Homo sapiens: one gene and its partners. Changing the gene in region 4 together with the main gene of any one other region gives a genetic interaction. Each region holds a gene or a part of one and is shown on either strand. Other genes may lie near its edges. The genes, in order: ARIH1, MCM4, ATR and TIPIN.

The links.
Region 1: changes in TIPIN (region 4) and ARIH1 together harm fitness more than expected from each alone (negative genetic interaction), as found in Homo sapiens cells (one large-scale study listed by BioGRID).
Region 2: changes in TIPIN (region 4) and MCM4 together harm fitness more than expected from each alone (negative genetic interaction), as found in Homo sapiens cells (one large-scale study listed by BioGRID).
Region 3: changes in TIPIN (region 4) and ATR are lethal when combined (synthetic lethality), as found in Homo sapiens cells (one large-scale study listed by BioGRID).

The regions. Positions count from the first base shown.
Region 1 is NC_000015.10:72,597,473-72,605,740, reverse strand, and holds the end of ARIH1 (E3 ubiquitin-protein ligase ARIH1), read right to left. Parts: 3' UTR 2,754-8,268; downstream 1-2,753. UniProt on the Homo sapiens protein: E3 ubiquitin-protein ligase, which catalyzes ubiquitination of target proteins together with ubiquitin-conjugating enzyme E2 UBE2L3.
Region 2 is NC_000008.11:47,967,480-47,974,440, reverse strand, and holds part of MCM4 (DNA replication licensing factor MCM4), read right to left. Parts: coding exon 6,956-6,961; intron 4,644-6,955; coding exon 4,384-4,643; intron 3,931-4,383; coding exon 3,565-3,930; intron 3,101-3,564; coding exon 2,973-3,100; intron 1,585-2,972; coding exon 1,377-1,584; intron 1-1,376. UniProt on the Homo sapiens protein: Acts as a component of the MCM2-7 complex (MCM complex) which is the replicative helicase essential for 'once per cell cycle' DNA replication initiation and elongation in eukaryotic cells.
Region 3 is NC_000003.12:142,557,718-142,565,233, reverse strand, and holds part of ATR (serine/threonine-protein kinase ATR), read left to right. Parts: intron 1-2,124; coding exon 2,125-3,002; intron 3,003-3,812; coding exon 3,813-3,991; intron 3,992-4,779; coding exon 4,780-4,971; intron 4,972-5,792; coding exon 5,793-5,983; intron 5,984-6,457; coding exon 6,458-6,610; intron 6,611-7,516. UniProt on the Homo sapiens protein: Serine/threonine protein kinase which activates checkpoint signaling upon genotoxic stresses such as ionizing radiation (IR), ultraviolet light (UV), or DNA replication stalling, thereby acting as a DNA damage sensor.
Region 4 is NC_000015.10:66,335,691-66,339,685, reverse strand, and holds the end of TIPIN (TIMELESS-interacting protein), read left to right. Parts: intron 1-2,504; coding exon 2,505-2,728; 3' UTR 2,729-3,495; downstream 3,496-3,995.

The DNA of each region.
Region 1 (8,268 bases), 6.3 Mb from region 4:
CCAGCAGACAGAGAGGCAGGATTCAAACCCAGAATTTTTAACCAGTACCCAGCAATCTTAACAATTACCCTCTACTGCCCCTTGGGCCCCCTGTCCCCAGGAGCCTGGCCAGCCAAAACTCACATCCCCAGGTGAGTGGCAACCACCAGAAGTGGTTGTCTTAGTCCTTGGAGATGCCAGGCCAAAGAGCCCAGGGAGGTCAGGCTTGGGAGGGGGCAGGAGGTCAGGGCCTAGTCTGGAGCAGGGAGCCCCAGGAGTCACCTGCCCCAGTAGTCACCCTGGGGTGACTGTTGAGGGCAGGGGCTGGGCTGCTGAGGGAACAGCGCTGGCTAACAATATTTTGGTAGGGGGAGTGCAGAGGCACCAGGGGGGCCTAACCCGGTGTGCCTCAGGAGTGGCACAGACTCTGGCAGTAGTCCTGCCGTCAGAGGAAGTCTGCAGGTGGGTCAGGGGCTATGACCTGGTGGTTTTTACCTTTTTCTTGGCTGCAGCCAATTTGCTCTGTTGAGTTTCTTCCTACATGGTGGTGTGGGGAGGGAGGCGGGGTTGGGGCCACATCAGCGCAATCCAGGCAAGACTGCTAAACACCTCCGGTCACCTGCCAGGTAGCTGTGCAACTGAGTCAGAGGAGGGATAACCAGGGCCACACTAGAACACAGAATAGGGGCATGGCCTCAATGCTGCCAAGCCCATTGGTTGATGAGAAAGATGAAAGGGAAAGGAGGTGTGGCAAGGCAGCAGTGTGTCCAGAGGACTGTGGCATCACAAGGAAAGCTGCCCATGCAACCGCTGGCCCCTCCCACTCTGGGAGAGGGGAGGGGCCAGCTTTCACTTGGTGTCCGCTTAGCTTTCTGCAAGACTATTCACACTGGTGGTCAGAGTTCCTTTCCAAGAAGACCTGAGAGGCTGCTTTCTCTCTCCTGCCCTGGACCCTCCTGTGCCACTGAACCCTCTTTCCTGGGGGCCTCAGACCCCAGGGCTCAGGAGGTGGGTGAGGAACGGACTCCACAGTTTCTTTCCTGACTCCTCACAGCCCTGCCCCAGACTTCCCCTTCCCAGAAATCACCTCCAAGGACCCCCATACAGTGCTCCCCACAACCTCCCTCTCAGAACGCCCCCTTCCTAGAGGGTCCCTACCCTGATCCTGGGAGCATATCTGCCCCCTTTCCAGTTGGATCCAGTCCTAGGCACTCCTACTTCCCAGCTGCTCTTCCTCCTGCACACCCACAGTACCCCTTTCTCTCAGAGTGGGCCATGGGTCCAATCAGGCATTTCCCTCGGATTCCTCTCCTTGACTGAACCAGGACTTACACAAAGTTGCCACGGGGCCTTCCGATCCCCTGCGAGTATGTCTTTCCCACCCCCCACTGCCAAAGTCCCCATCCCCGAGCCTCCCTCCGTGTGAGTCACTGCCTCCCCTGGCCCTCCTCTCCATCCCAACAGCAGCCAATCCCCCTCTTCCAGGTCTTCTCCCAGCTGACTGAGGACCTCCAGGTCATTTCTCAATCCCTCTCCTTCCTTTCCTCCTGCCCACCAGTCTTCAAATAAGTGCTGTCCTGTCCTAGGCCAACTCCTCTACCTCCCCATCCTGTCTCCTGCCTCTACAGATGCCTTTCACTCCAGTCCAGTACTAGCTATCTCTCCTGCTCACTGGTTTCACCCCTTACCCAGCCATAAACAAACCCACAGCTCCCCAGTCAGGAAAATGCTTGGTGTTCACCCTGGCCACTCCTTTAGCTGCTAATAATCTCTCCTCTTCTGTTGCAAGCCATCCCCAAAACTCAGCCTCCACCTTCTCTCATCCCCCAGATGGAGTTGCCACTACCACTACCTCCACTCTCAAGTTACATTGTGAAAGACTTGGTATTTGTTTGTTCATTAATTTAGCAACTGCGGGGATGCAGGTTTGTGCCAGATGGCCCCTGCCCTCCAAGAGGCACAGGCAAAAAAAAAAAAAAAAAAAAAAAAAAAAAAAAAAAAACAGTTCCAGGACAAGTATGCACATGGTTCTGAGAAGGGGAGCCCAAGCTTGGGCTTGCAAAGAAGCCTCCCCAGAGATGGCAAGGTCAGAAGCAAGGCCAGAAGGGCGAGCCACAGTGAGCCCAGATGATGATGACAGGGAGGCAACCACAGTTTGCCAAAAGCATTGGGCTGATTTCGTTTCGCTCTGAGAATGAATTGGTATCTGCTATCTTTGACCATGGGTGACTGACTGCAGATCATGCCTTTTTCATTCATGTTAATTCATTCCTTACCTTTTTTTTTTTTTTTTTTTTTTGAGACATGTCACCCAGGCTGGAGTGCAATGGCACTAACTAGGCTCACTGCAACCTCTGCCTCCCAGGCTCAAGCCATCCTTCCACCTCAGCCTCCCCAGTAGCTGGGACCACAGGTGTGTGCCACCACACCTGGCTAGTTTTTTTGGTAAAATTAGCCCCAGTACAGACGGGGTTTCTCCATGTTGCCCAGGCTGGTCTCGAATTCGTGAGCTCAAAGCAATCTGCCTGCCTCAGCCTCCCAAACTGCTGGGATTACAGGCATGAGCCACTGTGCCCAGCCTGGAAAAAAAATCCACTTCTAATCTAGCAAATTTTGTGTTCTTGTTTACTATTTTAGCATTAATAACACCAAGTGACTAACATTCTCCTCATGAGCGCTATGCTAGGAATAAAAGCTTGCCACGGTGGAATTATCTAAACTAGAAGAAATCAATACCATGGATCCCAACAAAAATCAACAAAAGGGACCACATGTTCATTTTATCTGATATATTTCTGGAAAAAAATGTTTGCCATAGCAAAATGGAGACGGGGAGCCAAGCAGCAAAATACATCCGTAGTGAGGTACAGAAAACAGTATCCACTAGAAATCTTTTCAGGAAGGGTGCCATTTTGGGTTGGAGAAACTCCTTGAAAGTTAATTTGGGGGAGAAGGAGAGTCCTTGAGGGACCAGGGTAAGGTCAGAACGTTTCCTGGGAGAAAGGGGGAACATTTCTCTGGCTAATAAGGGCACAGTGCCGGACAGGGTGAAGAAGAAAAAGTCAGTCAAGAGTGGTACATTTCAGAGCATGAAAGGCCTCACACTGCATAAAATAGACTACACCTTAAGACTTCCAATTTTCAGTAAGACTCTTAGGCCCATATAAAATTCAGGAGCCTGTGGATTTTTTGGTGTGGAAACCACTGAAGAGGCAGATTGTACATCTAAATTGCAAGGGCGAGACTTAAGTATGAATTGGGAATTTAGAGTGTAGCAAATTAGTCAGACATTAGATAATAAGTAAGCAAAGTTTATGAACAATTCACCAAGAAATACAAATGGCTCTTTAACATATGAAAATATAACTGTGCAAGGAAAAAAAACATGCAAATTAGTTTCCAAGAGATACTTTCCATTTCTTGCATTGGCAAAGAACAAAAATTTCACTGACATAATTGTGAGGACAAATGCATTCACTAGTGGGAATTCATAAAACTTCCATTGAGAGCAGTTTGGCAATAACTACCAAAATTAAAAATGCACATAATCTTTAACTGAATTATTTCAATTCTAGTAATTTATTCTATAGGCATAGATGTGGGAAATGACTTTACATACAAAGGTATTCAATGCAGCATTATTTGTAATAACCAATGCCTAAAACCAACCTAGATAGAGGTTAAATAAATTATAAGTCCATATTATATGGCGCATGAAAAAGAAAGAGGCAACTATTTACATATTAATATTGAATAATTGCCAAGATATATTATTAACAGATAAAGTGCAGAAAATGCATATAGTATCTGTATTAATAAAAAGGCAAAAATAAAGAGGAATATTATATACATAATTGCTTGTATACTTAGAAAATATTTCTGGAAGGATATTCAAAATGCTAAAAGTGGTTCTAAAGAGGAGAACTGGGTAGCGGGGGGACAGGGAAGAGAAGACTTTTTACTCTATACCTTTAATACATTTTGAATTTTGTACTATATGGATGTATTACCTACTCCAATAATAGCGACTAAGAAAGTGAAAAGCACAACATACCAAGAATTGTGATAAATGCTAAGAAGGAGAAATATAGAACAGTTAGAACAAACAATGGGGAGCCAATCTAGACTTGTTTGGACAGGGAAATTTTTCCTGGGTAAGAGATGTTTAAAATGAGACCTAAAGGGTAAGGCATTAGCTTAGGGAAAGGGGATGAAGACATGTGCAGGCCAGGAAAGAATTCTAAGGCAAAGGAAGAACTTGTGCAAAGGCCCTGAGGATGGAAGAATCTCAGCCAGTTTGCAGCACAGAATGAAGACCAGTGTGAAAAGAGAAAAAGGTAACAGGGTTGGTTGCAATAGGAGAAGAGGTAGGAGTGCAGATCCACAAAGGCCATATGAGGAATTTTATTTTAAGGGCATTGGGAAGGCACTAGAGAATTTTGAGCAAGGAATGGCATGGTCAGAATGAACACTTAATAAACTCATGTTAGCTCATGAGTAGAGACTGAATTGGGAGGGGGACAAAAATTGATAATCTAGGGTAAACTAAAGGATGCTGCAAATGAGATGATGAAACACTTCACTTGGACTAGTGTGATGGCAAAGGAGATGGAGAAAAAGTAAATGGGTTCTCAAGTTTAGAGGTGGAAAAACCTCCAATACACATGATTGGATATGGGGGAATGAGGGAAAGGGAAATGGATGTTAAAGGAAGATTGCCAGGTTTCTTACTTTGAAAGCTGCTGGATGAGTGGTACAGCCAATTACTGAAATGGGAAGACTTAAGGACAAAGATGTTTGTAGAAAGCTCATGAGGCTGTTTCCCAATATGTGAAATCTCCCTGAAAGGGGTCCTGTGAGGAGCAAATGACATTCTTTATTCAATAACTAGAAGCCATTGCTATAATGTTTCAAAATCTCTCCTTTGACCTCAGATCTTGTGAGGAAGATAGAACACTTTCTGTACCAGGGCCTTTTTCAATAAGAAAGGACATTGGTTTCTCAAATTGCAATCACTAAACCTAATGTACTTTAATTATATACATAATTAGAACAATCTCTTTTTAAAAAAACATAATAGGTTGGATACTATGGTTCACACCTGTAATCCCAACACTTTGAGATGCTGAGGCAGGAGGATTGCTTGAGCCCAGGAGTTCAATACCAGCCTGAGCAACATAGTGAGACCCGTCTCTACAAAAAATTTTAAAATGAGCCTGGCATGATGGCATGTGTCTGTAGTCCTAGCTACTTGGGAGACTGAGGAGAGAGGCTCTCCTGAGCCCAGGAGCTCAAGGTTGCAGTGAGCTATGATTGCACCACTGAACTCCAGCCTGGGTGACAGAGTGAGATCCACTGTAAAACAAACAAACAAGAAGTATGTTCACAGGAAAATCCCAGAAATCACATAGAACATGTTTCTTGTGTCACAGATGGATCTTCATTTCCCTTAGCAAATCTCCTCAAATGTGACCCTGCTTATCAAGATTATTCAAATCATATAGCTGTGCTGGGCATACAAAAAAAATGGCATTTATCTATTTTTATGGTGGGGGCTGAGGACATAGAAGAGGAATCAGGCATCGGTAACTTTTCAACACCCCCAATATATGTATAAACAAGGAGCTACAGTTGAGTTTTTACATTTTTAATGTTTTATCATTTGTACTGACAAGGTCCATAGCCAGCTTTGTTCTGATGCCACCTGCTGGACAAGTCTGTAACATCTTATTTCTCTTTGGAAGTGTCCAGTCCTCCCAAAACCTATACCACAAACGCTTGAGAGTCCAGCCAACACTGGGAAATATCACTTCAAAATAATATGAAGCTTCACTGGACTTCATGGAGGATTTTCAGTATGCCTATTCTTGATGCTACAGATATACTCAATAGCAATCAATGGTGAATGTGGACAAAGGCATAATACTGCATTGTTTGTGAGAAAAAATACTGGAAACATGGAAATGTCCATCACCAGTAACTGTTTAAATAAACTAAGATACATCCATATTAAGACATATTATGCAGCCTGTAAAAGTCCTCAGGTTGTTAAAATAGTTACATAAAACAAATAAAGTGTAGAAAATATAGTATGCTTCCATTCATGTTTAAAAAAATAATAAGGGGGAGGCCAGGTGCAGTAGCTCACGCCAGAACTATGAGAAGTCGAGGTAGGAGGCCAGGAGTTTGAGACCAGCCTAGGCAGCACAGTGAGACCCCTGTCTCTACAAAAAATAAAAAATAAAAGGAAGAGATATTGACACATTTTAGAAATACAGTTTGGAAAAGAAAACACAACCAACTGGTAAGATATTTGTCTCTGTGGAGGGAGTAGAGGCACTAGGGGAGTTAAGATGGGAAGGTGTTGCTTTTCTTTATGATTCTACAAAATTTAACTTTGTATTATCCATGTACTTTTACTTTTGAAAACAGTTAATGAGGCCAGGAGCGATGGCTCACACCTGTAATCCCAGCACTTTGGGAGGCTGAGGCGGGTGGATCAACTGAGGTCAGGAGTTGGAGACCAACCTGGCCAACATGGTGAAACCCTGTCTCTACTAAAAATACAAAAATTAGCTGGGTGTGGTGGCGGGCGCCTGTAATCCCAGCTACTCAGGAGGCTGAGTCACGAGAATCACGAGGCAGAGGTTGCAATGAGCCTAGATCGTGCCACTGCACTCCAGCCTGGGCAACAGAGCCAGACTCTGTCTCAAAAAAGAAAAAAATACTAGCTAATGAAATATGTAAATAAAACCATTGTTTAAACTCCCATTCCTAACCAGGCATGGTGGCTCATGCCTTTAATCCCAGCACTTTGGAAAACCAAGGTGGGAGGATCACAGGCAACATAGCGAGACCCAAACTCTACAAAAAAAAAAAAGCCAGGCATGGTGGCACATGACTGTGGTCCCAGCTACTCAAGAGGCTGAGGCAAGAGGATCACTTGAGCCCAGAAGGTCAAGCCAGCAGTGAGCTATGATCATGTCATGGCACTCAAGCCTGGGTGGCAGTGAGACGTGTTTAAAAAAAAATTTTTTTTTTTTTTTTTGAGAGGGAGTCTTGCTCTGTCACCCAGGCTGGAGTGCAGTGGCACAATCTCGGCTCACTGCAACCTCCGCCTCCCAGGTTCAAGCAAATCTCCTGACTCAGTCTCTCAAGTAGCTGGGATTACAGGCGCCCACCACCACACCTGGCTAATTTTAGTATTTTTAGTAGAGTTGGGGTTTCACTATGTTGGCCAGGCTGGTCTCAAACTCCTGATCTCAGGTGATCCACCTGCCTCGGCCTCCCAAAGTGCTGGGATTACAGGCATGAGACACTGTGCCTGACCTAAAAAAATTTTTTATTAAAAAAATAAACTCCTACTTCTGAAATTCACTAGTGATATGAACAAAGTCACAAGGAATATACCTCCCACTCTAGCAAACAACAACAAAAGGCCAGATGAGCTAGAAAATAAAACATATGTTTAATTCATCAGAAAGCTAAGGACACAAAGAAATCTAGGTTGGGTGCAGTGGTTTATGCCTGTAACCCCAGGACTTTGGGGTGCTGAGGCAGGCAGATCGCTTGAGCTCAGAAGTTTGAGATCAGCCTGGGCAACATGGTAAAACCCTATCTCAACAAAAAATACAAAAATTAGCCGGGTGTGGTGGTACACGCCTGTAGTCCCAGCTGCTCAGGAGGCTGAGGTGGGAGGATCAACTGAGCCAGGAAGGCAGAGGTTGTAGTGAGCTGAGATCACTACAGGCTGTACTCCAGGCTGGGTAAGAGTGAGACCCTGTCTCAAAATAAAAACAAAAACCAAAGAAACCTAAATGATCCAAACTCCAGAAAGTGCCAAGTCCTTCATAGGAGAGAAGAGACCCCCTAGCTGTTGTTATTCCTAGTTGAACTATGGTAGGAAGAGGAATACTACAGGGGGGAGAAAAGAGAAACCTGCTGAAATTTAACAACATTTTCACAACCCCTTGGAGGCTGGTTTGACATTAGAACCTAGATGACCCAAATCCACAGAGGAAGGCTTCCCACCAATCTTACCCCTTAGATGATAACCAGGTACAGGAAGGTGTAGTACACTAAAGGTGTGGATAATAGAAGGAACGCTGAGAGAGCTTGACTTCTCCCAAGGGCAAAATACCCTTTAAAAATGAAAGGGGAGGCAGGATTGTTGTGAAATCCAACAGAGGCACTCTTGGAGCCTAAATGGGGTCAGAAATGCTGAGAAACCCATCCCCTAGGCATTGTGGGCATTCCTCTACAAAAGGGCAGGGCACACATGAGAGCTGA
Region 2 (6,961 bases), on a different chromosome or scaffold from region 4:
ATGGCGTGGCAGAGGGAAGGAATGTGGCATGTGGGGAGAGGAGAAGGCTGTGAGCACTCATAGGGAGAATCAGGCCTGTCTGGGAAAAGTGCTCACATGGGGCACAATGGGGCTCATAAGGATTGCTGGGAGAATGCTGCAAAGGTAAGTTGTATCAATTTCACATACAGATGACACAGTCTTATTTCTTCATTAACAACCCCCAAGACTATGACACACAAAAAAATTACATAATGTCTGTAACTTTCATCTTAGAATTTTTAGGAGCTCAGTTAGGATGCAAAGCTCATCAAAGCACCAGGAACCTTCTTAATATCACAATGCTTGAATAACCTAAATGTGCCATCATGCACTTCAGCTCATGTACCAGGATGCTGAAAAGTGAACCTAAAAGACAGCTCATTCTGTTTTTTACAAGCAAAAGGAAGCTTACAGAAACTGGATGACTTTTTCAGTTTCCAAATTACTGTGTAGTGTTGCCTCTATTTGAAACCAGGTCTTTGATCTTAAATTCACTATGCTTGTAAGTACTTAAACATATAAAGTGTGTGTACTACCTACATAAATGAACTATTTCCCCCTTTTGCAACATTTGGAAAGATCAATTTTGCAATATGGGAGGAAGTAATAAACAGTTATAAAAAATAGTATATTGCTAGGCGCGGTGGCTCACGCCTGTAATCCCAGCACTTTGGGAGGCCGAGGCAGGCGGATCACGAGGTCAGGAGATCGAGACCATCCTAACACAGTGAAACCCCGTCTCTACTAAAAATACAAAAAATTAGCCAGGCGTGGTGGTGGGTGCCTGTAATCCCAGCTACTCAGGAGGCTGAGGCAGGAGAATGGCGTGAATCCGGGAGGTGGAGCTTGCAGTGAGCCGAGATCGCGCCACTGCAGTCCAGCCTGGGGGACACAGCGAGACTCCGTCTCACAAAAAAAAAAAAAAGAAAAGTTTATTATTCTTAGGCCCAGCATGGTGGCTTGCGCCTGCAATCCTAACACTTTGGGAGGCAGAGGCTGGCGCATCACTTGAGGTCAGGATTTCAAGACCAGCCTGGCCAACACGGTGAAACTCTGTCTCTACTAAAAATACAAAAATTAGCCGGAGTGGTTGTGGGCACCTGTAATCCCAGCTAATAGGGAGGCTGAAGCAGGAGAATCGCTTGAACCCAGAAGCACAGGCCACAGGCTGCAGTAAGCCGAGATCAAGCCACTGCACTCCAGCCTGGGCAAGAGAGCCAGGCTCTGTCTCAAAACAAGGAAGAGAACAGTATGTTATTCGTAACAAAATAATTAATATTTTAAAGGAGATGATTGGTCAGTTACATTAATGCTGTGGGCTACAGGCACAGTAAGCCTTTTTTCAGCAGGGTTACCTCGATGAGAGCCTGGCTGGCTTCCTCACTTAGCCGCGGCATGATGGTGCTGTGCGCGTAGGCAATGTAGTCCTTTAGCACCGCCATGTCCAGGAGCTCCTCCTCTGCCTGCTCCTCGCTCTGGTAGTACAGTGCGACCAGGTGGTGAGCCAGACGCCTGTCATAGGCTTCGTCCTGAGGGTCCAGCAAGAGGAAGATCAAATCAAACCTAAGAAAACAAAGTAAAAATACTGTTTTTCCAGCACCTTGTGAGGCCGAGGCAGGTGGATCACCTGAGGTTGGTAGTTTGAGACCAGCCTGGCCAACACGGTGAAACCTTGTCTCTACTAAAAATGCAACAATTAGCCAGGAGTGGTGGTGCCTGCCTGTAATCCCAGCTACTTGGGAGGCTGAAGCAGGAGAATCGCTTGAACCTGGAAGGCGAAGGTTGCGGTGAGCCAAGTTCGCGTCACTGCACTCCAGCCTGGCCGACAGAGGGAGACTCTGTCTCAAAAAAACAAACAAAAAAACCCAAAACAACAACAAAAAAACTGTTTTCCTAGTTGAGACACCAATACACCTACAAACGACGTACTAAAGACTGCTTGAGCACCACAGATGTGCAGTCAATGTGCACCCTGTGAGCGCCATCAGGGAGAAGCATCTTTGCCTGGTGTGGAAAGGGCCTTCGTGTCCATCCACTCACCCCACTCACCCTGTGCTGTCCCTAGTCCTTAGGTCGGCCCAGGGAACGGCTGGGGACCAATCAGCTGAGTCAAAGGAAGTCTTCCCTTAGGGAAACGTTACTATAATTTTGACGATGGAAAGTTTTTTTTTTTTTTTTTTTTTTGAGACAGAGTCTCACTCTGTAGCCCAAGCTAGAGTGAAGTGGTATGATCTCAGCTCACTGCAATCTCCACTCCCCCAGGCTCAAGCAATTCTTGTGCCTCCTCAGCCTCCCGAGTAGCTGGGATTACAGGCATGCGCCGCCACGCCGGGCTAATTTTTTGTATTTTAGTAGAGATGGGGTTTCATCAAGTTGCCCAGGGTGGCCTCAAACTCCTGAGCTCAGGCGATCCACCCACCTCAGCCTCCCAAAGTGCTGGAATTACAGGTGTGAGTCACTGTACCTGGCTGACAATGGAAAGATTTGAATGAAAACACATTCAACTGTTTTTTTGGGAAAAAAAACTTCTGTCAAAAAAAAAGAAAAAAAAGCAAGTAATTAAAACCTAAAATCCATTTATGAAAAATGTCCAATATTTGTAGTGGGGCCAAGAGTGAAGATTATGTGATTGCACTTTAATAAATCTAACTTTTCAGAGCCTCATCTACTGTACGGAATTGTTCTCTGTTGACTCTCAGCAGTGGCTTTAGGACTAAGAGTAGTGAGTGACAGCCATGTGTAAACGGCGTGGGAGGTAAACATCCCAACTGCTTAAAAAACAAATGAGAACACACATCATCCTTGTCGTGAAAACTCTTGACCAACCAAATTTGAAACATCTTGATAAGAGTGAAGAGTTTCCATTAGCAGTTGCTGAAATCTTAGTAGCTCCTTTTCAATCTCACCCTGAATATTCTACAAATGAACAAAATAAAAATCTGTTTTAATACCTTGATAATAAAGTATGAGGCAGCTGGATGTTTTCAATGGTTGTTTTTTTAGGATTCCACTGAGACTCAATGGGATTTGCTGCTGCCAGGACAGAGGTGCGCGCATTGAGCTGACAGATGATCCCAGCCTATCAGAGCAAAGAGTGCAGTTAGAAGCCTCTCCCTGACGCTGGCAATTAACAAGCACCGTCTTCGCCCGGCCACCTACTAAACCCATATTCCCTCCACTGAGTTTCTATTGCCTGAGCCATGTTGCCTTTACTGACTTCAGCAGTTCACCTGGATAAGCCCTGTCCTCAGATTCATGCCAAGGACTGAGTTTAGATGAATGTGTGCTATAACCACATCTTTCTCAGGAAGCAGGCACCTTGCAAGAGCTTTAGGACAAATTCAAGGCTAGTACAGCAATAAAGACAAAACGTGACACCCTGTAGAAGACATGTTGAGATTTAGCTGAAATATGATGTGGAAAGCACTTATCAATCTCCCCAAGTTAGAACCAAGGTAGCACAGCACAGTTCCACAGACCCTGTCTTTCAAGGGTCCACATATTTTAAACACGTCCATGTTCACGGTGGAGAAGGCGACTCACCTTTGCAATGGACAGAGTCTGCTGTTCCATGACTTCATGCAATACCGATCTTGTACTTTCATTCATCTTGTCGAACTCATCGATACAGCAGATGCCGTTGTCACTCAGGACAAGAGCACCTGTCTGCAGGACCAGCTGCCTTGTCTCAGGGTCTTTCATTACGTACGCAGTGAGGCCAACTGCACTGGAGCCCTTCCCAGACGTGTACTGGCCCCTGGGGACGAGGTTGTACACGTACTGCAGCAGCTGGGACTTGCTGGTACCAGGGTCGCCACACAGCAAGATGTTGATCTCAGCCCGAAATTTGCCCCTTCCAGTGTGACTAAAATCCTTCCTTGTCCCGCCAAAGAGCTGAAGCAAAATTCCCTAAATAATCAGAGACATGTCTAAACATTCATTTTCTGCACAGTTAACTGAGATGTAGTTTAAACTTTAGAGGTACTTTTCTCTCTTATAAAGAACTACAATTAAGAAATCACAGGAAGGTATAAAAAGGCTCGTGAAAGTGCTTGATATGCTTTAAGTTATCACTGACCAGTTCATCAGCACCTATCATTACACCAGAATGGTGGCCATGCAAGTCCCTATTCTGACACTGTGTGGCCTCTTCTGTTTAGAAACCTAAGTTTAGACCAGAGATGAGGATAGACAATGCTATGATTCTTCTCAACCAATGGCAAGTCAGGTTGCCAGCACTTGCTCTAACAGGCCACAACTCTGTCCTTTATGGCGGATGGCTCGAGTGGCGGAGTGGATGTTTATACTATTTGATCCCAAAGAATTGTAAATCCCAACCCCTAGTTTAAAATCCACTGTTACCTTCTTTATATCTTCATGTTCATAAATGCTTGGAGCCAAGGCTGAAGCAAGCCTCTCATAAATGTCTGGTTTCCTGGAAAGTTCCTTAAGCAATTCCACACGTTTCTCTGAAAAAAGTTTCTGTTCTGCTTCTTCATCAAGGCCATGCAGACGTTTTGCATCCGTTTTCCGATAATGAATGACATCAATGTGGGTTTTGTAGACAGACTTCACATTACTCACTCTTGGATTGACTCGAATAGGCACAGCTCGATAGATGCCTGAGGGCACAACCAGGAGATGCACTTTTACCTTCCCATATCTTCCTCCGAGTGGCTCAGCAACCAGCGTAGGCAACAGGTGCACTTCAGAGCGAGGCACCACGTCGGGCTGGCCCTGGAAAGGGTGAGCTCCACCGTCTCTTAAATGACCCTCCCAAGCCCAGGACTCAGGCCCACATTGCAAAGCTCCCGCTTGCTATGAGCAAGCAGGGAAATAGCAGCAGGAAACGGACAAGCTCGAAAGAACCAAGGTGGCTCATGTCTGTAATCCTAGCACTTTGGGAGGCTGAGGCAGGCGGATCACCTGAGGTTGGGAGTTCGAGACCACCCTAATCAACAAGGAGAACCCTGTCTCTACTAAAAATACAAAAATTAGCCGGGCGTGGTGGCACATGCCTGTAATCCCAGCTACTCGGGAGGCTGAGGCAGGAGAATGGCTTGAACCTGGGAGGCGGAGGTTGCGGTGAGCCAAGATGGTGCCATTGGACTCCAGCCTGGGTGACGAGAGCAAAACTCCGTCTCAAAAACAAAACAAAACAAAATGAAACAAAACAAAACAAAACAAAACAAAAGAGAAAGAACCCAGGTTTCTGCAAATGATAGACCCGAGGACGTGTTCACCTGGGCCCACTAGTCAGCAGTGCTCCAGGGCAACTGTAGCTACGTGAGCATGCCCACGGGCACAGTCACCCTGAGGGTGAAATGGAGCTGCTGTGCTTCTAGCTCAATGCTGGGTTCGTGGTTGTTTTTAATAAGCAGTATTTTTACTTCCCTAAGTTGAGTGTACAGAATCTGCCTAGCACTTACTTGACTGCAACAAAATGCTAAAATCCTCCAGTCATTAAAACTAGACTAGGTCCCCCCAACCTACCCACCACCCCCGACAAAAGCATGCAAATCATGCATTCTTCTGGAAGCCAGGCTCCTCACATACAGAGGTCTGATCTGATGTTCGTCTTTTCTGGATTTCAAACCAGAAGGCTTTAACTCCAGGCTGATTCCTGCAGCTTTTGGAGAAAGCCTGGCCTTTCCCCGTTACAGCTATCTCAACGCAATGGCACAGAGCACTGTCCTTGTTTATTCAGTGGGTCAGTGTAATTCTTGTTTAACACAACAAACCAGTTTACACACATTCTTAGAATACACACTATTCTTCACTCCAATATAGGCTAGGGATGGAAGATTATGTTTAAAGTGGCCCGGAATGATTTATCTCACAGAGCAGCATTGATACTTATTTCACATCTACACAGCACTTTCCACAGCCCCTTGGCCCCAAACACTCTCACACATGTATCATCACATTAACTCCACTTTGTAGGTGAGGAAACAAAAATATTGGACTAAATACTTTATCAAAGGTTTCAGGGTAGCAGGACTGGAAATGCGCACGTCACTCACTAAAAACTACGCATTCTTTCAAATTCTCCATGACTTCAAGTACTTTTACGACGGAAGATTGCCAGTGATAACTGCGGGACTTCACACTGGGGAAGAAACAGGGTGAGCACTGCCTCACTGAAGACAAGAGCCGATGCGTGGTGTGCCCCAGGCCCTCCGCTCAGGAGCAGATTCAGGCACTCCGCGACCGTCGCCACCTTGCCCATCAATGAAGAACCGTGCTGCCATCAACACTCCCTTGCCCCCAACCAAAATCCATTGTGACTCTACAGCATCAAAAGGAGGACTGCCACACTCATATGGTGCTGTGCAAAGAGCACTCTTGTGGCAGCAAGAGAAGGAGACCTGGGTCCTGGGTTCTGATTTACCGTGGCATCTGAGCTACTGCTGTCTATGCATCCCTGAACCTCAGCTTCTACACATGGAAACAAGTCACTGACTCATTTTTCTCTGTAACAAACAAATGTTAACCCTTGGCTATACATTTGGGAAATTAAGTAAAAATTACTTAAAACTCCAGCATTGGTGAGTAATACTTCTCTGAGCTGATGGCATAACTCAAAACTTTACCCATACAAGCCTGTCTGAGGCTGCTCTCTCATGATGCCAACAGTACTGACTTGAGACACACACAGCTCCAGGATACTGAGGTATCAAGAGGCGAGTGACCACACGAACCATGAGCTCCAACATTCAAGTTTGGGAAGAACTGAACAATTTCATACTGCTGGGCCATGGTACTCAGTTAAAAAGGTGGCAGATAAAGCAGGGATATACCCCACAGTCTCAAAGACAAGCAGTGACAACTGGAGGTAGAACTGGACCTGTGACCAAGTCCAATGACTCACTAAAGCACAGCATTGAAAGCAAGCCAGACATGCTCAAGTGCTGGTGCAAACCTACACTCTTACCTGTAA
Region 3 (7,516 bases), on a different chromosome or scaffold from region 4:
CTCTTAGTACTAAGTGTTCTGCATTTCATCTATCATAGAGGCTATTAAACTGTGCTCTAATCATTGGTTTGTCTATATTCTTTCCTACAGTAGTTTTTAAACTACAGGTCATAACCCACTAGTGGGTTATGAAATTAGGCAATTATCAGCATTTAAAACAAGATGAAATAAACTAGAAAATATCATAGGCTGGGCACGATGTCTCACGCCTGTAATCCCAGCACTTTGGGAGTTCGAGACCAGCCTAGGCAACATGGCAAAATCCTGTCTCTACCAAAACCAAACCAAACCAAACCAAAACAAAACAGAAAAACATTAGCTGAACATGGTGGCACATGCCTGTGGTACAAGCTACTTGGAAGGCTGAGGCACACTAATTGCTTTAGCCTGGGAGGCAGAGATTGCAGTGAGCTAAGACCATGCCGTTGCACTCCAGCCTGGGTAACAGAGTGAGAACCTGTCTCAAGAAAAAAAAAAAGAAAATATTATAGTACATTGTATGTAATAAGAGTAAGTACTATTTAATGAACCTTTTGTTTTAAATATTTAAATAAAATGCATGTATATGTACTGGGTCATGATATAAAATGTTATTTCTTTGTTGCAGTCAAAAAGCTCAAGAAACTGTACTGTGAGATTCATGAGGACAGGACTATGACTGATTTATTCTTGTGTACCTGAGACAGAGTCACCACTCAAATTTTAGTTGAAAGAATGACAATAGCTACCCTTTATTGAACATTTATTTTACTTTGGAACTGTGCTGAGTATTTCATGTGCATTTTCTTATTTGGTCCTCACAGTAACCCATAACATAGATAGCATTATTCTCCTTATACATGAAATTACAGAGGTTCAGAGAAATGAAAAGTTTATACAACTAGTAAGTGGAAAGCTAGGACCTTGCCTGTCTGACTCCAAAGTTGTTACAGGCATACCTCAGAAATATTGTGGGTTCAGTTCCAGACCACTACAATAAAGTGAATATTGCAATAAAGTAAGTCACATGAATTTTTTGGTTTCCCAGTGCATATAAAAGTTATGTTTACGTTGTACCTTAAGTGTGGAATAGCATTATGTCTAAAAAACAATGTATGTACCCTAATTAAAAATACTTTATTACTAAAAAATGCTAACGATTATATCATCCTTCAACAAGTTGTAATATTTGTGCTGGTGGAGTGTCTTGCCTTGATGTTGAGGGCCTTTCTCTGGATTAGGCTTTGGCTTAAGGGAATGTTGTGGCTGGTTTGATCTTCTTTTTTTCCTACTGGAAATTTCCTCATCTTTTAACGATTTGATCTTCTATTCAGAGTACAAAAACTTTCTCCATACCAGCAATAAGGCTGTTTCACTTTCTCATCAATGGTGCGTTCAGTGGAGTAGTACTTTTAATTTCCTCCAAAAACTTTTTCTTTGTTTTAACAAGTTGGTTGTTTGGTGAAAGAGGCCTAGCTTTCAACTTGTCTTGGCTTTCAACATGCCTTCCTCAGTAGGCTTAATCATTTCTAGCTTTTGATTTGAAGTGAGAGATGTGTGACTCTTCCTTTCATTTGAACACATAGAGGCCATTGTAAGGGTTATTAATTAACCTAATTTCAATACTGTGTCTCAGGGAATAGGGAGACACAAGGAGAGGGAGAGAGATGGGGAACTGCTGGTCGGTGGGTCAGAACACATACATTTATCCATTAAGTTTGCCACCTTATATCGGTGTGGTTCATGACAGCTCCAAACAATTACAATAGTAACATCAAACGTCACTGATCACAGATCACCATAACAGATACGATAATAATGAAAATGTTTGAAATATTTTGAGAATTACCAAAATGTGATACAGAGACATGAAGTGACCACATGCTATTGGAAAAATGGCACTGATACACTTGCTTGATGCAGAGTTACCACAACCTTCAATTTGTGACAAATGCAGTATCTGCAACGTGCAATAAAACTGGGTATGCCTGTGTTCTAAACTATTATGTTTCCATTGTGAAGAGAATGTTTTACACTCTTGTTAGTGAAGTTTATTCTTTAAAAGTCAATCGTCAAGGATTTAGCAAATGAATTAGCACTTCGGATATACTTGTTTATTTAATATCTTTTTTGTTTATTTCAAAGAATTCAGTAATTGGATCATAACGAGACTTCTGCGGATTGCAGCAACTCCCTCCTGTCATTTGTTACACAAGAAAATCTGTGAAGTCATCTGTTCATTATTATTTCTTTTTAAAAGCAAGAGTCCTGCTATTTTTGGGGTACTCACAAAAGAATTATTACAACTTTTTGAAGACTTGGTTTACCTCCATAGAAGAAATGTGATGGGTCATGCTGTGGAATGGCCAGTGGTCATGAGCCGATTTTTAAGTCAATTAGATGAACACATGGGATATTTACAATCAGCTCCTTTGCAGTTGATGAGTATGCAAAATTTAGAATTTATTGAAGTCACTTTATTAATGGTTCTTACTCGTATTATTGCAATTGTGTTTTTTAGAAGGCAAGAACTCTTACTTTGGCAGATAGGTTGTGTTCTGCTAGAGTATGGTAGTCCAAAAATTAAATCCCTAGCAATTAGCTTTTTAACAGAACTTTTTCAGCTTGGAGGACTACCAGCACAACCAGCTAGCACTTTTTTCAGCTCATTTTTGGAATTATTAAAACACCTTGTAGAAATGGATACTGACCAATTGAAACTCTATGAAGAGCCATTATCAAAGCTGATAAAGACACTATTTCCCTTTGAAGCAGAAGCTTATAGAAATATTGAACCTGTCTATTTAAATATGCTGCTGGAAAAACTCTGTGTCATGTTTGAAGACGGTGTGCTCATGCGGCTTAAGTCTGATTTGCTAAAAGCAGCTTTGTGCCATTTACTGCAGTATTTCCTTAAATTTGTGCCAGCTGGGTATGAATCTGCTTTACAAGTCAGGAAGGTCTATGTGAGAAATATTTGTAAAGCTCTTTTGGATGTGCTTGGAATTGAGGTAGATGCAGAGGTAAGTAATTTTTCAGGTTACTAGTTAAGTATGTATTTTGTTCATCATTTAATTGTATACATATGTGCAAAATGTAATAATAAGAAAATAGAATATCTTTAATAGTAATTTATATTTGGAACATAATGATTTTCATAGTGTAGTCTGGCTCACTATTATGGACTTTTACTTTGATTTCAGAAGGATTTGTTCATTAAGTTGGTAATGAACTGCCAATGGAGTAGAATGTTTCTAAGTAGAATCTGTGAAGTGTAAATGTATTTGTTGCATTATTAATTAAAAGGGGGCAGTTACCAACTTAATTGCAGAAGCTTTGGTCAATCAGATTATGTGTCTGACAAGTTATAATCAATCACTTTTAGAAAACCTATGAATGATTAATCATGCCAAATTATGCGCTTTTTTCTATTTGGACTGTGGGAGTCAGGTAATACAATAAAATCATCAGAGATGCAGTAACTTGATTAAATATTTTAGTTTATTAATCTTGCTGGATTAAAGTTACATGAAGAAAGTTGGTAATTCCCTTACAGAATTTTTTATAAGGGAATTAAAATTTATAGCATTTTGGTAAGAGGAAAAACAGGATGTAGAGAGAAGGATTTGTTTAAACCTTCTAAGACTATAGAACCATAGTCTATATATAGACTTAAATAATATAGATCAATTTAGATGTTTATTTTGCTTTATGAGACTCTAAAAGTAGTTTCACTAGAAAACACCTAACATCTAATACATTCTTGCTGCCTATGAATAATATAAATATATTTTCTAAGGAATATTTCTGGAAATTATTTTTTATTTTCTCAGTACTTGTTGGGCCCACTTTATGCAGCTTTGAAAATGGAAAGTATGGAAATCATTGAGGAGATTCAATGCCAAACTCAACAGGAAAACCTCAGCAGTAATAGTGATGGAATATCACCCAAAAGGCGTCGTCTCAGCTCGTCTCTAAACCCTTCTAAAAGAGCACCAAAACAGACTGAGGAGTATGATGACCTTCATTCAGTTTGTATTTAGCCATTAAATAAAACTTTGTTCACTTTTAAAAATCAGCTTTAGTTAAGTGCTTTGATTTAAATACACAAAGAACATCTTTCTAAATGTAGCCAAGGGAGTGCTTAAAATATTTTTATAATTATTGTAGACGGTTAGTAGTATAAAACATTTCATGGTTAAATATAGTTACTTTGCATGTTTTTATATGCTTATCTAATTTAACTTTTTAATATGTGAAAAATCTTTGAGACTGTGCATCTATTAGCAATTTTTAAAACATTAACCAACTATTTTTTATAAAGTGGCTAAGTTGCCATATTTCAGTTACTTCTGAACATTGTTTTAATTGTTTTAAATCTTAGTATAAATTTCAGGCTGGGCGCGGTGGCTCACGCCTGTAATCCCAGCACTTTGGGAGGCCGAGGCGGGCAGATCACGAGGTCAGAAGATCGAGATCATCCTGGCTAACACGGTGAAACCCTGTCTCTACTAAAAATACAAAAAATTAGCCAAGCGTGGTGGTTGGCGCCTGTAGTCCCAGCTACTCGGGAGGCTGAGGCAGGAGAATGGCGTGAACCCGGGAGGCGGAGCTTGCAGTGAGCCGAGATGGCGCCACTGCACTCCAGCCTGGGAGACAGAGTGAGACTCTGTCTCACAAAAAAAAAAAATTTTTTTGAATAGTTGATATTACATAGTATGTTTTATTCTAAATATGTTTCATGTTTTAACCAAATTTATATTGCATATGAATATCTCTCTACTATATTCATAATTATAGAATTAAACATGTGGACATGAACCAAAAGAGCATATTATGGAGTGCACTGAAACAGAAAGCTGAATCCCTTCAGATTTCCCTTGAATACAGTGGCCTAAAGAATCCTGTTATTGAGATGTTAGAAGGAATTGCTGTTGTCTTACAACTGACTGCTCTGTGTACTGTTCATTGTTCTCATCAAAACATGAACTGGTAAAACAAACTTCTTGTTTCTTGGGGTTGGGTTTCCTGTAATGAACTTGGATTTACTGTTTACTCATTATTCACTTGACTCATGTAACCTTAGAACACAAACTTTTCACTGAAGTAGTTAATAAATTTATTTTCTATTGAGTCAAATGCTAGGTACGGTGCTAAGCACTGTATATATCTTAGTTAATATTTACAATAGTCCTGTAAGGTAAAGGCTATTATGCCTATTTTAAAAATTAGAAACTGACACTCAGAGAAACTGAGGCTCTTTTTTGTCTGAAGCCAAAACTGACTTTCCTGGGGACACATGATTAGAAAGTACCAGAACACATTTGTGTACAACTCAAAACCCAGTGTTTGGCTGTTGAAGACAGGGTCTCGCTTTGTCTCCCAGGCTGGTGCACAGTGGCATGATCATGGCTCACTACAGCCTTGATCTCTATCCGGGGCTCAAGTGAGCCTCCCATGTAGCTGGAACTATAGGCATGTGCCGCCACACCCTAATTTAGAAAAAATTTTTTTTGTAGAGATGGGTTTCCCTATATTGGCCCGGCTGGTCTCAAACTCCTGGGCTCAAGTGATCCTCCCACCTCAGGCTCCCAAAGTCATTTGGTTCCCAAATCCTAAGGGTGATTTAAGCTGACATAAATAGATTCAACTTAAAATAGTAATAACATATTACTTGATTTGCATGTTTACTTTAAATTGTTATAGATAAATTTCGTACTCACAATTTCTTTTGGCTTTACTACAATTTTATGTTTGACTATAACAAAATTCATCTTAATTCCAATGTTTTTAACAAAATGTACTTACTGCAGCCGTACTTTCAAGGACTGTCAACATAAATCCAAGAAGAAACCTTCTGTAGTGATAACTTGGATGTCATTGGATTTTTACACAAAAGTGCTTAAGAGCTGTAGAAGTTTGTTAGAATCTGTTCAGAAACTGGACCTGGAGGCAACCATTGATAAGGTGGTGAAAATTTATGATGCTTTGATTTATATGCAAGGTGAGTACAAATTAGCAACAGATCAGAATAACCTTTAAAGATAATCAGTATAGAAATATGCTTTCTTTTTTGCCTGAAGCCTAAGTGCGTGTTTGGAATACTCAGAAGTTTTTTCCTGATTTCAGTTCTATTAAATTTGTCAATAATAGAAGTTCTGAGTTGCCAATTTATGTGCATAATATTTTGATTCTTTAGTCAATAGAAATTATTTATAACTTCAAAGTTTTTTAATTTGGGAGTTTGAGGAATGCCGTGATTCTTCTTTAAAACAGGCATAGATAACATGTTTTTATAAAGTCACATTTAATTTCTTTGGGTTCACAGACCTCAGACCATCGTTTATAGATCTCTGTGTTAAGAATTTCTGCTTATCCAATGATCATTATGATAGTATTTCAAATGTCTTTATTTTTATTTAAAAGAGATATGATTAAGGAAAAGTTATAATTAATGACTTATTTTGTGCTTCTGTAGTAAACAGTTCATTTGAAGATCATATCCTGGAAGATTTATGTGGTATGCTCTCACTTCCATGGATTTATTCCCATTCTGATGATGGCTGTTTAAAGTTGACCACATTTGCCGCTAATCTTCTAACATTAAGCTGTAGGATTTCAGATAGCTATTGTAAGTGCTCACAAGAATGTGTGTGTGGTTTGTTTTATTTATCTATCTATCTATCTATCTATCTATTTATTTATTTATTTATTTATTTATTTATTTATTTTTGAGACGGAGTCTTACTCTGTCGCCCATGCTGGAGTGCAGTGGCGCAATCTCGGCTTGCTGCAACCTCCGTCTTCAGGTTCAAGCAATTTTCCTGCCTCAGCCTCCTGAGTAGCTAGGATTACAGGTGCGCACCACCATACCCAGCTAATTCTTATATTTTTAGTAGAGGCGGGGTTTCACCATGTTAGCCAGGCTGGTCTCGAACTCCTGACCTCAAGTGATCCACCTGCCCCAGCCTTCTAAAGTGCTAGGATTACAGGCGTGAGCCACCATGCCTGGCCTTGTGTGGTTTGTTTTAACTCATCTCTATATAGGACTTCTAAGACTTATTTATATTTTTTTCAATAATTAAAAGAGCAGGTACATTTTTAATAGTTCAGAAGGGGGTTAGATACATAAAAAGTAACACATAAAAGCCTGCCCCACATATCCCATTTCCTTTCTTTTTGTAAAACATTTGCAATGTGTCCTTACATATCATTATCTTCATTTAATAAAATTAGGAAGTATTTGAGAAATATTTTAAAAAGAAGAACAATATACCAAAAATTCTTATACCAACTTCTCAGTTTAAGAAATAGAAACATTAGGCCAGGCACGGTGGCTCACGCCTGTAATCCCAGCACTTTGGGAGGCCAAGGCATGCGGATCTCTTGAGGTCAGGAGCTTGAGACCAGCCTGGCCAACATGGCAAAACCTCATCTCTTCTAAAAATACAAAAATTAGCCAGGCATGGTGGCTCACGCCTGTAGTCCCAGCTACTAGGGAGGCTGAGATACAAGAATCTCTTGAACCCAGGAGGCA
Region 4 (3,995 bases):
TCTTGACTCACTGCAGCCTTGAACTTCTAGTCTCAAGCAATCCTCCAGCATTGGGCTTCCAAAGTGCTGGGATTGCAGGTATGAGCCAGTGTACCTGGCCTAAATTTGCTGTTTTTAACACACATTGTGGGTTTGGAAACTATATAACCAAATTTGTTAAAACTATATTTAGAAAGAATTGCAAGTTGGTTTTGAATGAAGTAAGCAGGATTGCGTATATCTTTCTTAATTTCCCATTCAGTTTTTCCTTTCAAAATGGAAAAATAAGAATTATAGGCCCAGCACAGTGTCTCTTGCCTGTAATCCCAGCACTTTGGGAGGCTGAGGTGGGCAGATCACTTGAGCCTGGGAGTTCAAGACCAGCCTGGGCAACATAGTGAGTCCCCGTCTCTACAAAAAAAAAAAGAATTATAATAACTAGATACCATGTTGTAAACGAAGTTTCACCCAATATATTAACATTTTTAAGTGAAAATTATTTTGGCTACTTTTTTTTTCAGTTAAGATGAATTTACTTTTTCTTTTTGCTTTTTTTTTTTTTTTTTTTTTTTTTTGAGATGGAGTCTTGCTCTGTAGCTCAGGCTGGAGTGCAGTGGCGTGATCTTGGCTCACTGCAACCTCTGCCTCCCGGGTTCAAGCAGTTCCCCTGCTTCAGCCTCCTCAAGTAGCTAGGACTACAAGTGCGTGCCCCCATGCCTGGCTAATTTTTGTATTTTTAGTAGAGAAGGGATTTCACTGTGTTGGCCAGGGTGGTCTTGAACTCCTGACCTAGTGATCTGCCTGCCTCAGCCTCCCAAAGTCCTGGGATTACAGGTGTGAGCCACCATGCCCAGCTGAATTTACTTTTTCCTTTTTTTTTTTTTTTTTTTTTTGAGACGGAGTCTTGCTCTGTCACCCAGGCTGGAGTGCAATGGCGTGATCTCGGCTCACTGCAAGCCCCGCCTCCCGTGTCCATGCCATTCTCGTGCCTCAGCCTCCCGAGTAGCTGGGACTACAGGTGCCTGCCACCACGCCTGGCTAATTTTTTGTATTTTTAGTAGAGACAGGGTTTCACCGTATCAGCCAGGATGGTCTCGATCCCCTAACCTCGTGATCCACCCACCTCGGTCTCCTAAAGTGCTGGGATTACAGGTGTGAGCCACCGCACCTGGCCAATTTACTTTTTCTTTATAAATGGATGTTTTATTAGTACCATGTGAAACATTACATGAAGATAGCATTATTCTTGATGGCAGTGGCTTCTTTGCTGTCAATATCAAGTATACCTGGCAGTTGGTATTTAAAGCTCACCTCTGTTTATCATATACAACTTAAAATTTGTCCAAATGGAAATAAGTACTTTAAAGTTTCTTATGGATCACTCTGACATAAAACCTAAACGCACTTGGTTTTTATTAGACCTCTTTCTAGTAGTTTTCAGTTTTGTTTTTTTAGATGGGGCCTCACTGTATTGCCCAGGCTGGAGTGCAGTTGCTGATCTCGGCCCACTGCAACCTCCGCCTCCTAGGTTCAAGCGATTCTCCTGTCCCAGCCTCCCGAGTAGCTGGGATTACAGGCGTGCTCCACCATGTCCGGCTAATTTTTGTATTTTTTGTAGAGGCAGGGTTTCACCATATTGGCCAGACTGGTTTCAAACTCCTGACCTTGAGTGATCTGCCTGCCTCAGCCTCCCAAAGTGCTGAGATTACAGGCATGATCCACTGTGCCTGGCCAATAGTAGTTTGATTTTGAATAAGAACAGTTACATTTGACTATGATCCAAGAGTGTGAGTTGAATAACATTCAAAACCATTTTGCTTTTTTTTTGTTTTTTTTTGGTTATAGGATCTCACTTTGTCACCCAGGCTGGAGTGCAGTGGCACGATCATGGTTCGCCACCATAGCCAGCTAATTATTTTTTTTTTTATTTTATTTTTTTTGATGTTTTGTTGACATGGGGTCTCACTATGTGGCCCAGGCTGGTCCTGAACTCCTGAGCTCCAATGATCCTCCCACATTGTTGGGATCGGGCCTGGCCTCTCTTGCATTTAAAATGGATCTTAATTGTATAAAAATGGGCTTATTGGCTAGGCGTGGTAGCTCACGCCTGTAATCCCAGGACTTTGGGAGCCTGAGGCGGGTGGATCACCTGAGGTCAGGAGTTCGAGACCAGCCTGGCCAACATAGTGAAACCCTGTCTCTTCTAAAAATACCAAAATTAGCCGGGTGTAGTGGCGGGTACCTGTAATCCCAGCTACTCGGGAGGCTGAGGCAGGAGAATCACTTGAACCCGGTGGAGGTTGCAGTGAGCCCAGATCGTGCGATTGCACTCCAGCCAAAGTGATGGAGCGAGACTCCATCTCAAAAAAAAAAAAAAAGATATATTTAGAAGAAAGTGATCATAATTAACATTAAGTGATCTTAGACTTCATTTTACTAAACTGAGCTTTTGAAGAGGTTTGTACTCATGCGGTAAGATTGGATCAGGTACTTATAATGAATAATAATGGTATGATTTCTTTCAGATATGTTAATGAATACACCCAGGGCACACACGGTTGAAGAGGTTAATACTGATGAGGATCAAAAGGAGGAGTCAAATGGATTAAACGAAGACATTCTGGACAATCCATGTAATGATGCTATTGCCAATACTTTAAATGAAGAGGAAACACTGCTGGACCAGTCTTTTAAAAATGTGCAACAGCAACTTGATGCTACATCCAGAAATATTACTGAAGCTAGATAAGTTTCCATTAAGAGAAAATGTATCTGTTAAGTCATCGTCCTGCAAGCTTGGCGTTACTATGTATTTTTTCTTCTTGGAGTGAAAATCCTTAGATAGTAAAACTGTTATAGATTATTGTTTAAAATCTGATAATCTGGTATTTATTTATAATTATGCTTGTCACTTTAGTTAAATCTATTTGTTCTCTTTAGTGTTTGTTTTTATATAGGTATTTCTTCATAAAATGATTAGGAGGTAATAAGCAGTTTCTGCTGCTGGTCTGTCATTGAATGCCTTGTTTTCACTAAGTTGGGAGGTTTTGTTTCTGTTTTTTACTGCTCCTTGCAAAGCAGGGCTAATCCATGGACAGTGTGCCCAGAGTAGTCTAGTTGAAGTTTTTTGTTTTGTTTTGTTTTGTTTTTTTTGACACAGAGTCTCACTCTGTTGGCCAGGCTGGAGTGCAGTGGCACAGTCTTGGCTCACTGCAACCTCTGCCTCCTGGGCTCAAGCAATTCTCCTGCCTTAGCCTCCCGAGTAGCTGGGACTACAGGCGTGTGCCACCACGCTTGGCTAATTTTTGTACTTTTAGTAGAGATGAGGTTTCACCATGTTGGCCAGGCTGGTCTCAAACTCCTAACCTCAGGTAATCCGCCCCCCTCGGCCTCCCAAAGTGCTGGGATTACAGGTGTGAGCCACCGCGCCCAGCCTGGGTGAAGTTTTGAGATGTACATATATACTGAATATTAATGTCAATTTTTTAAAAGAAGTAAAAATTATCTTAAAAACTATCTACAGGCTTTATGGGAGGTTTTCATTGCTATATAGTTCTGCAGTTTACACTTTTGGTAAATACAAGATTTTTACATGTTTTCTAAGGAGTTACTTTAATAGTTAAAAGGTCACATGAAAGGCCGATACATTGCCTGGCCCTCATAGGTGCTAGGGTAGTTCAAAGAATGCTTTTTGGGAACTTACTGACTAGTTGGAGTGAAACTTGCAAAGTATCGTGGGGAACATAGCATCTCGGGAGGATTTACAGGAAAGACTTTGCTTTTGGTGGAGGAGATTCCAAGTATTGGGAAGCACATGTACAATAATGATACAGAAATAAGATTAAGGGGATAAGGCAGATTTTAGGAATGCTGATTTTGAGGTTAGATGTGTTAGGGCCAAATCGTGAGAACACCTGATTGGAGTTCTTCCTGCCAGGTAGAGGGGGTAGTTACAAATAAGAAAGGTTAGTGTTAGGAAAGGCTCTCCCACCCCACCCCCTCACCCCTACCCACAG